Regions from separate parts of the Homo sapiens genome. Here regions 2 and 3 are each linked to region 1. The links come from fine-mapping of genetic effects on gene expression. A gene starts in region 1. Each other region holds a variant in brackets. All regions are shown on one strand. Distances are between the middles of the regions. Region 1 holds the start of CSGALNACT1 (chondroitin sulfate N-acetylgalactosaminyltransferase 1). Region 2 overlaps CSGALNACT1 (chondroitin sulfate N-acetylgalactosaminyltransferase 1). Region 3 overlaps CSGALNACT1 (chondroitin sulfate N-acetylgalactosaminyltransferase 1).

The links. PIP is the estimated chance that this variant, and not a neighbour inherited with it, causes the effect.
Region 2: its variant is fine-mapped to the expression of CSGALNACT1 in whole blood (INTERVAL, PIP 0.93).
Region 3: its variant is fine-mapped to the expression of CSGALNACT1 in whole blood (INTERVAL, PIP 0.98).

Annotation. Positions count from the first base shown.
Region 1 is chr8:19,756,085-19,758,584 of GRCh38, reverse strand. CSGALNACT1 (chondroitin sulfate N-acetylgalactosaminyltransferase 1) reads left to right here and starts at 1,308. Exons shown (of 9, transcript NM_001354483.2): 1 at 1,308-1,399.
Region 2 is chr8:19,688,650-19,691,492 of GRCh38, reverse strand. All of the region lies in intron 1 of CSGALNACT1 (chondroitin sulfate N-acetylgalactosaminyltransferase 1), which reads left to right. CSGALNACT1-AS1 (CSGALNACT1 antisense RNA 1) reads right to left here. Exons shown (of 2, transcript XR_007060841.1): 2 at 1,931-2,769. Among named protein-coding and RNA genes, the nearest start is that of CSGALNACT1-AS1, 12 kb to the right of the region's middle. The variant T/A (reference allele first, on the strand shown) is at 1,721.
Region 3 is chr8:19,665,370-19,668,212 of GRCh38, reverse strand. All of the region lies in intron 1 of CSGALNACT1 (chondroitin sulfate N-acetylgalactosaminyltransferase 1), which reads left to right. Among named protein-coding and RNA genes, the nearest start is that of CSGALNACT1-AS1, 12 kb to the left of the region's middle. RefSeq lists an enhancer at 2,457-2,843. The variant T/CTT (reference allele first, on the strand shown) is at 1,330.

The DNA.
Region 1 (2,500 bases):
AAACACCCACTTCCCTGTTTCCCAAGTCTCAATTGAATTGCAGTGGGTATATTAGGTCACGAGGGTGAAGAGTTCACTCAGGGTGTGGGGTGGGGATAGGTCCACCTGGGGAGTCCAGGTGGGAAGCAAAACTTGCTTCAGGGATGCTTCCTGCAGGTAAGCAGGAGCTTAATGGAAACCGAGCTGCTTCAAGACTGTGCCTATAGCCTCAGGACTGCCTACCCTGTGCCCACAATAAAGTCTGGTGCGCCGGAATCTCCCAGATGGAGACTCTGAGCCAGGCAGTAGAAGGAGCCATGGCCAGGTAGTAGAAAGAGCACTGCCTCAGGAGTCATAGGACTGGTTTCCAGCTCCGGTTCTGCGGTGGCTCAGCCCTGGGGCCTCTGCAAGTTGCTTAACCGCATCTGCAGGTGATGACCTCTTCCAGTCTAACTGACTCCTCCTGAGTCCCCCTCAATTACACTGAAAATTGGCGATCCTATTTCCCAACTCCCTCTCCCACAGAGATGCGCTGGAGCACTTACAGATAAAAGGCGACCTGTGGCCCTGGAGGGTGCCTGCCTGTGTGTGCTGGAGGTGGCGGTGGATCTTTTATTACCCAACACTCCACTTGCCTTTTTAGCCTTTCCTCTCCCTCTTCTCTCCTGGCCTCCCAGTGGCCGTCAGGGGTCCCTGCAGACATCGCTTACCCACAGTGGTGCGGTGTGAGAGTTACAGGGGTTCCTGACCTTCGCTGTAAGTAAAAGCTCTCTAGGGGAGGCGTTATAGCTGACCAGGGCAGCAGAGACCGCGACTAAAGCGTGAATTCCCCGAAGTGCGATTTACAAAGTTTTTGCATGGAAGTCGGCGCTCGGCGGGGAGGGCAGCCAAGGGAACAGAGCGGGTGGAGCAGGGGGATGGGGAACTCTGTCCTGCAAGAGTAAGGACCCCATGGAGATTGGACACCTCTCTCCTGCAACTCGGGCCACGCCACAGTGTCCTAGTCTCTAAACTTCTCCGGCTCTTGGTGTCCAGTCACGCGTAAACCGCCCCTGGTGTCCGAGCGCGGCCCCTTCCGAGAGTGACAGGCTTCGGCCAGGGCGCCGCTCCGACGGGCGCAGGGACGCACTGCAGAGAGGCCGTGGGTGACGCGGAGGTACGCGGCCAACCGCGACCCCAGCCCGGCCTTGGCCGCCCCCGCCGGACCTACCCTGCGGCGGGGCGCCAGGCTTGGCCGCTGTTGCGCCCGCCCGCCCGAGCCGCCGCCGCCGCCGCTGCTCCCCGCCCCCGGGGTCCCTGGAGGCTCCGCGGCTGCCGGAGCGGGAGGTGGAGCCGAGTCCGCGGCGGCCGCGCAGGAGGGAAAGTTCAGCGACGGCGGCAGCGGCCGGAGCCGGGCCGGGCAGCTAGCAGGGCGCTTCGGGTGAGTCGGGTCCCCTCCCGGGCCAGCCGGGCGCGGTGTGCCGCGCGGGGGCGTCAGTGGCGCCGGCAGATCCCCACAGCCCCGCGCGCCTAGCTCGCGCCCGCCCACCCCGCGACCTCGGGGTGGCTCGTGCAGCTGCGGAGGACGGTGCCGCGCCTGGCCTCCCTCCGCCGCTGCCCGCCGGGGGCCCAGGGCACGGGCAGGGGCCGGGGACCGGCTTGGCAGGCGGAGGGCGCGGCGCCTCCAGGTGGGCGCGCGGGGACGCGGAGGGAGCTTCCAGGGAGGGTCCGGGGCCGCTGCGCTCCCGGGGTCGGTTTGGCTTCACCAGCGTTTCTCGTGGCCTTCCGCTGTCTGATTGCTTTCTGCAAAACCCACTGAAAAGTAGCCTTTCCACGTGCCGCGCGATGACTGCGGTTATTGTATTATTGTGGCTGGGATGGAGAGGGTGGAGGGGGCGTGACGAGGGTGGCCGGTGGGCAGCGCGCTCGCCTGCCCGGGACCGGGCTAGTGGGGGATGTGGCTGAGGGTCACCGCTGCCCGAACATGCCCAGGGGACGTGCGATCGGTGGGCAGAAGCTGTTCGAGGGCATGATCTTGGGGTGGGATGGGGGCTAGAAGGGCGGGGAGGAGAGGAAAGCTGTAGGAAGCGGAGGCAAAGTTGTTTGTTTCCGTCGCACTTCCTGCACCTGCATTCCTGTCAGAGATTTTGAAGTTATCTTTTCATCGATGAGCAAAGAATGGTGAGAAAGGAAGAGATGTTAACAGCACTGTGCCTGCCAAAACAGTGAGCCTCGGGAAATACTCATAAGTGAAATACTAATAAAAAGCATGGAGTGGTTAAATTTCACAAACTCCACTTTTCTTCTGGTTTCAAAGCCTTGGTGCAGTTTTTACTTAACGTCATTAGATACGTCTAGATAATAAAGGTAATGAAGTGTTCTTTCACGGTTTTTTTTTTTAAACTGGAAATTTAAATTTAATTCTGTAGGATTTCGTCGACATTGTTCCTACAAGAAAGTCAAATTACCTTGGTGTTACTTGCAACAGTGAGCATTAATAAGCCCTGTGCAGTGCTGAAATGTTGCTAATTGGAGGGAGAAA
Region 2 (2,843 bases), 67 kb after region 1:
GTGATTTTCTTAAGTTCTTTTCTAATGAGAAGGCAATTGGTGTTTGTTTTTGTTTTGTTTTGTTTGTTTTAAGAAATTGGGCCCTGTTTGATTAGTGGTATTTTCCCTTTTGGTCCAAATGACCCTGGTAGCTGAGGTTGGCTGTGTTGTCAAAAACAGTGAGATCTAGAAGCCCTGCTCAGCGGTGTTTGGGAGGAGGCCTGTGCATCGTTGGCTGAAATTTATGGGGAACTTCCCAGGAACCCAGCTTGACCCCTTTGCTCACCACCTGCTGCCTGGAGCATTACCCCCACACTCAGACCTATCTGTTTTCTCCTTCGGGCGTGGCCTCTTGCCTTGGCTGACATTTCATTTTATGATAAGCCGCAGAGAGTTTTATTTGTGTTTTTCTTCTTTTCTTTGAGACTAGGTCTCACTCTGTTGTCCAAGCTTGAGTGCAGTGGTGCAATTGCCACTCACTGCAGCCTTGAACTCCTGGATTCAAGCAATCTTCCTCTCTTGGCCTTCCTAAGTGCTGGCATTACAGACATGAGCCACAGTGCCCAGTGCCATGGAGATTTTTAATAAGGCAATCTTTATTAATGGTTGCTGTGGTCATTGCCAGTGACCTTCACAGAGTCGTGAAATCTTTTGCTTATCCCTGATCTCAGACATCTGAACAACAAACTCTAATTTCCCAAATTACCCGTTGAGCAAAGTAGTCCTTAGGAAGACCTAGGCTTGCAGGATAGAAAGGGTGGGATAACACACCCCCTCCTTCCATGCGGAGTTTCAATCACATATTATTAATTCAGAGTATCGTTATTGCTCCATCTGCAAACTGCAAATGTGAATTCCAGCCATGTATTTTTAAACAGCTCTATTATGATCAAGCAAATTTGAACCTCTCATGTAGTTTATTACAAGTGGGCTTTGGTTATAGAGGAAAAAAATCTGTTTTATATATGTTTTCTATTTTGTCATTTTTGGTAAGCTGTAGTCAAACTCTGAGTTAGGAGAAAGATGAGCTCTTTGACTATTTAATAGTTCTATATATCACACTTGTGGTAGCTTTTGTCATTTTTTTTTCTTAGCAGAAACAGAATGTTAAGGCCCAAAGTAGAGATATCTAAGTCCTGGGAGCAGGATGATATTAGAAATACTGATGAATTTATAATAGTATGGAGAATTAATCTGGATAACGAAGATTTTAAAATAGCATTACTTGGCTATAAATGCAGTTAATGTTGCCTTCTGGAAGGAAAAGAGGTAAAATTATATCTTCTGTTACTTTAGCAATTGATTTGAAAAGTATTCATGTATTAATTGTCCACTCAATATTAGGAAATGTATTAGAATATAACTGCTTTGAACCTTTTCCAAAAAAGTTTTATCCAGATTGTAGTAAATTTATACCTGCAGTTGTCTCTACAATATAGTGTTTTATTTGTTGAGTCCTGTTAAAATTCAACACATTTAGTTTGAAACTCAAATTGGCTTTAATGATTAGTGATTCATGAACTGGGCATCATTTCATCTAAAGATGCAGAAAAGGGACTCTGGATCAGGCATTGGCGGTTGGTTTTTAAAAGGTGGCTTGAGCAGGAACAAGAAAACAGCATAGCGCAAAAAAGCAGATTGTTAATATCAGGTTACTCTACGTCACTTTCCTTGTAAGGGTTCAAGCACAGGGGACTTCTTTATGCTAAAACTTGCTGTTTGGGGATTTAACTAGCATCTC[T/A]CTCTCTTGATTTCTCAGGTCAGATAAATAGCTTAGTTTTGGTTTGGTGATGTGGAACTTTAGCATGAGTGACTCTATTTTGGTTGGATCTGTTGAAGCCTAGAGCAGGAGCTCAGTCTAAATCAATGGCCTCCTATAAATCTTAATAGTTTAATACATAGAAAATTCTCAGCATCTTTCTCATAGAATTTTTAAGCAGAAGCCAGAATCTTTTATAGTCGTGTGTATCAGTTATTTATTGCTGTGTAGCAAACCTCTTCAAAACAGTGGCTCAAAACAACAGTTATTGAGTTCGGAAATAGGCAACTTGGGCATGGCTAGGCATGGAAGGTTTGGGTTCCATGCAGTGTCAGCTGGGACCGTTCAGGGGGCTGGAGAATCCTCTTTCAAGATGGCTGCTCAAAAGGCTGTTGACCAGAGCTCAGTTGGGGTCCAGGGCCGGGGTCCTGGTTCCTCTCCAAATGGCCCTCTTCATGTAGAACACGCCATGGGCTGCCTGGACCTTGTCATACCATGGTAGCTGGGTTATAAGAGTGATTGTTCCAGGAGAACCAGGTGGAGAACTATAATACAGTCTTTTATGACATCGTCTTGGAAGGCACATGGCATCGCTACTGCTGTGCTGTACTCCTTGGCCCAGATTGCAGAGGACGGGGCAATAGGAGATGGATTAAGAGGAGAATCAAAGATTTTGGTATGTTTTAAAACTGCCATACTCCATTAGAAGCCTCTCATTAACATTTACCCTAGCCAAACTGTGGCTTCTAAATGAAAGACTGATCACTTGTTGCTAAGGTGACACTGCACTGTTATCCATAATTACGTGGACATGCATGGCTGCACGTCCAGATAGGAATCAATTTTGTCCCAGTTAGGCGAGTCCTGAGCAGTGTTCATTATCTTCGGACCATGGTGCATGTGGAGGAGGTTGGCGAGGGCAGTTCTGTTGGGATGGTAGGGATGGAAGTCAGACTGCTGGGCTGCTGGGAACAACTGGGAGATGATGATCTGGAAGCAGCAGGTGTAGACGATGCTCTCAGAGTGCTTAGCTGAGACAGGAAAGAGGGAGAAGGATACAGTGGGCTGAGAGAGCTTTCATATTCCTATCTATTTTATCAGCTTT
Region 3 (2,843 bases), 91 kb after region 1:
GCAGTGATGAGATGCTGTGTGATTTTACCATTCCTTTTTTGCATTTTTGAACAAAATATAGGAAAAATCTATGAAAACTATTTTTCATTGTGTAGATGACCATGTTTCATATTTGGGAGCCAGTTGTATTTCTCTCTCTGGAAAAGTTAAAGGATGTAATATATGCTGGTCAAGTTTTTATATTCTTACTTTCTAGCTTCTTCTAATATTTGAATGGTTAGGTTTCCTTCAGTTCAACTTCACTATGCTCATTTTCACAGTTGTGATCTGCGCTTTAATTCTATTTCTTCTTAAAATATTTAGTTGGAGGAAATTCCATGATCGTTCATTGAGTTTAATACTTTTTTATATGCTTTATCAGATTTTTGAATTCTTACCAGTATGTAATACCCTTATAATGAAAATATGTGGATGGTATAATCTTACATTACATTTTCTGTGGCTTAAGTTAGTGATTTATGGCCTATGATTTTTACATTTTTGATCACGAAGCAGCAAATGACCTTTGCAGCTCTTTGAAAGCTCTCCTGATCTGAGGAAGAGACGTTAGTCTTAGGGTTTCAAGTACCTTCTCCTTACTGCCGTTTTGTGGTCATGTTGCATTAAGGGCCTTGACTTGTTCATAATTCATCAGCCTTGGTTCAAAGGGGGTGGAACACGACTGACTCTCTCATTGCAGTTCATTGTTCTCTTACCGTTGTGAGAAGTCATAATTAAATCACTTCACTCTTTAAGCACTAAGGTAGAATAGAAATAATGTCTTGATTTTTGTTTTTTGAGACAGGGTCTTGCTCTATTGCTCAGGCTGGAGTGCAGTGGTGTGATCTCAGCTCACTTCAGCCTCAACCTCCTGGGCTCAAGCAGTCCCCCTAACCTCAGCCTCCTGAGTAGCTGGAATGAGGGGCATGTGCCACAACACCCAGCTAATTTTTGTATTTTTTTTTTTTTTTTTTTGGTAGAGATGGGGTTTCGCCATGTTTGGCAGGCTGGTCTCAAACTCCAGAGCTCAAGCGATCCACCCACTTCTGCCTCACAACTTGCTGGGATTACAGGCATGAGCCTGTGCACCTGGCTGAAATTATGTCTTTTGATATTGTGATGAGATTTCTTTCCCTTTCTTTCTTTCTTTCTTTCTTTCTTTCTTTCTTTCTTTCTTTCTTTCTTTCTTTCTTCCTTCCTTCCTTCCTTCCTTCCTTTCTTTCTTTCTTTCTTTCTTTCTTTCTTTCTTTCTTTCTTTCTTTCTTTCTTTCTTTCTTTCTTTCTTTCTTTTTCTCTCTCTCTCTGTCTCTCCCTTCCTCCCTTCCTCCCTTCCTCACTTCCTCTCTCTCT[T/CTT]TCTTTCTTTCTTTCTTTCTTTCTTTCTTTCTTTCTTTCTTTCTTTCTTTCTCTCTCTCTCTCTCTCTCTCTCTTTCTTTCTTTCTTTCTTTCTTTCTTTCTTTCTTTCTTTCTTTCTTTCTTCTTTCTTTCTTGTTTCTTGTGTTTCTTTCTTGTCTTTCTTTGTGTCTTTTCTCTCTTTCTCTCCCGGGACAGTCTTGGTTTGTCAATTAGGCTGGAGTGCAGTAGCACAATATCGGCTCACTGTAACCTCTGCCTCCTGGGTTGAAGCTATCCGCCCACCTCCTCTCCCTCCTGAGTAGCTGGGATTACAGGCACTCACCACCACACCTGGCTAATCTTTATATTTTTTAGTAGAGACAGGGTTTCATCATGATGGCCAGGCTGGTCTGAACTCCTGACCTGAAGTGATTCACCCGCCTCAGCCTCCAAAAGTGCTGGGATTACAGGTGTGAGCAACCACACCTGGCTGAGAAAATGTTAATAGATGAATTGGGTGAAGTAGCTAAATAGAATAGGAAGAAGTAGAAGAGACAGGGTTTTCTTCATGGGAGCTGGAGCAAGTTGTTTGATTTTGTCTGGGCTTCTATTCCTCTAGTTATAATATGAGGACAATAGATGGTTTTAATTTCCCTACAGCACTCAGATTTTAAGGTCTGACGGTGAAAGTTGTGGCAAGAACACTGTTAGAATACCTTGTTCCTTTTCTAGCATTCAAATCCAGCTTCCGTGGAGCACCCTCCTTTCACCAGTGTTGTACAGGAACAAAGGGAAAAATCTTGAAGTCTGCCTGGATTTAAACTAGACAAACAACTTGAAATAACTCCAAAAAGATTAAAAATAACCCAAATCTGGACTGCCATGTGAGAGCTGTGATGAAGAAAGTCTAAAACAATGAGGAATCTTCAACTAGAAAAAAGATGGAGAAAATAAGAAGCCTGGAAAATCGACAATGTGGTTAGATGAATGTAGGTCCATTGATCTTGTCCTGGGAGGTGAGACTAAGAGGAAGTTGAAATGTTAACTGTAAATGAATAGAGAATGTGTTCTGTTTACGTAGCGAAGAACACATTTTTAGTTATTCATTATCCCAGGTGTAATTAACCAAACCCTTCTATTATGAATTAAGAGAGAGGAATGGGGAAAATTGACGTCCTTTGTCAGGCTTAGAAGACCACATCTTCCTAGGGTACAAGTTCATCTTTGGTTCTGGTCGCAGAACCAAGTTCTGTGCTGGGTGGACTGTGGTTTTGCCCCAGGCTTGCAAGTCAGTGATGACATGGGAAAGTCCGTGGCTTCCTGGGCCTGATGTTGGGAAAAGGCATGGTGAGTCATCCTCAGGGAGATTTCAACACAGGCTGTGAATAAAGAGCATTTATTCCGTCAAATGTTTACCCGCAGCCTGAGTACCTTTGAGGCAGTTGCCTCTTACTCCTTCTGAGTTTTGGCCCCGGACGTTATCTTAGGAAGCAAGCTGTTCATAAACAGACATTTGTAACCACTTAAAATACTGT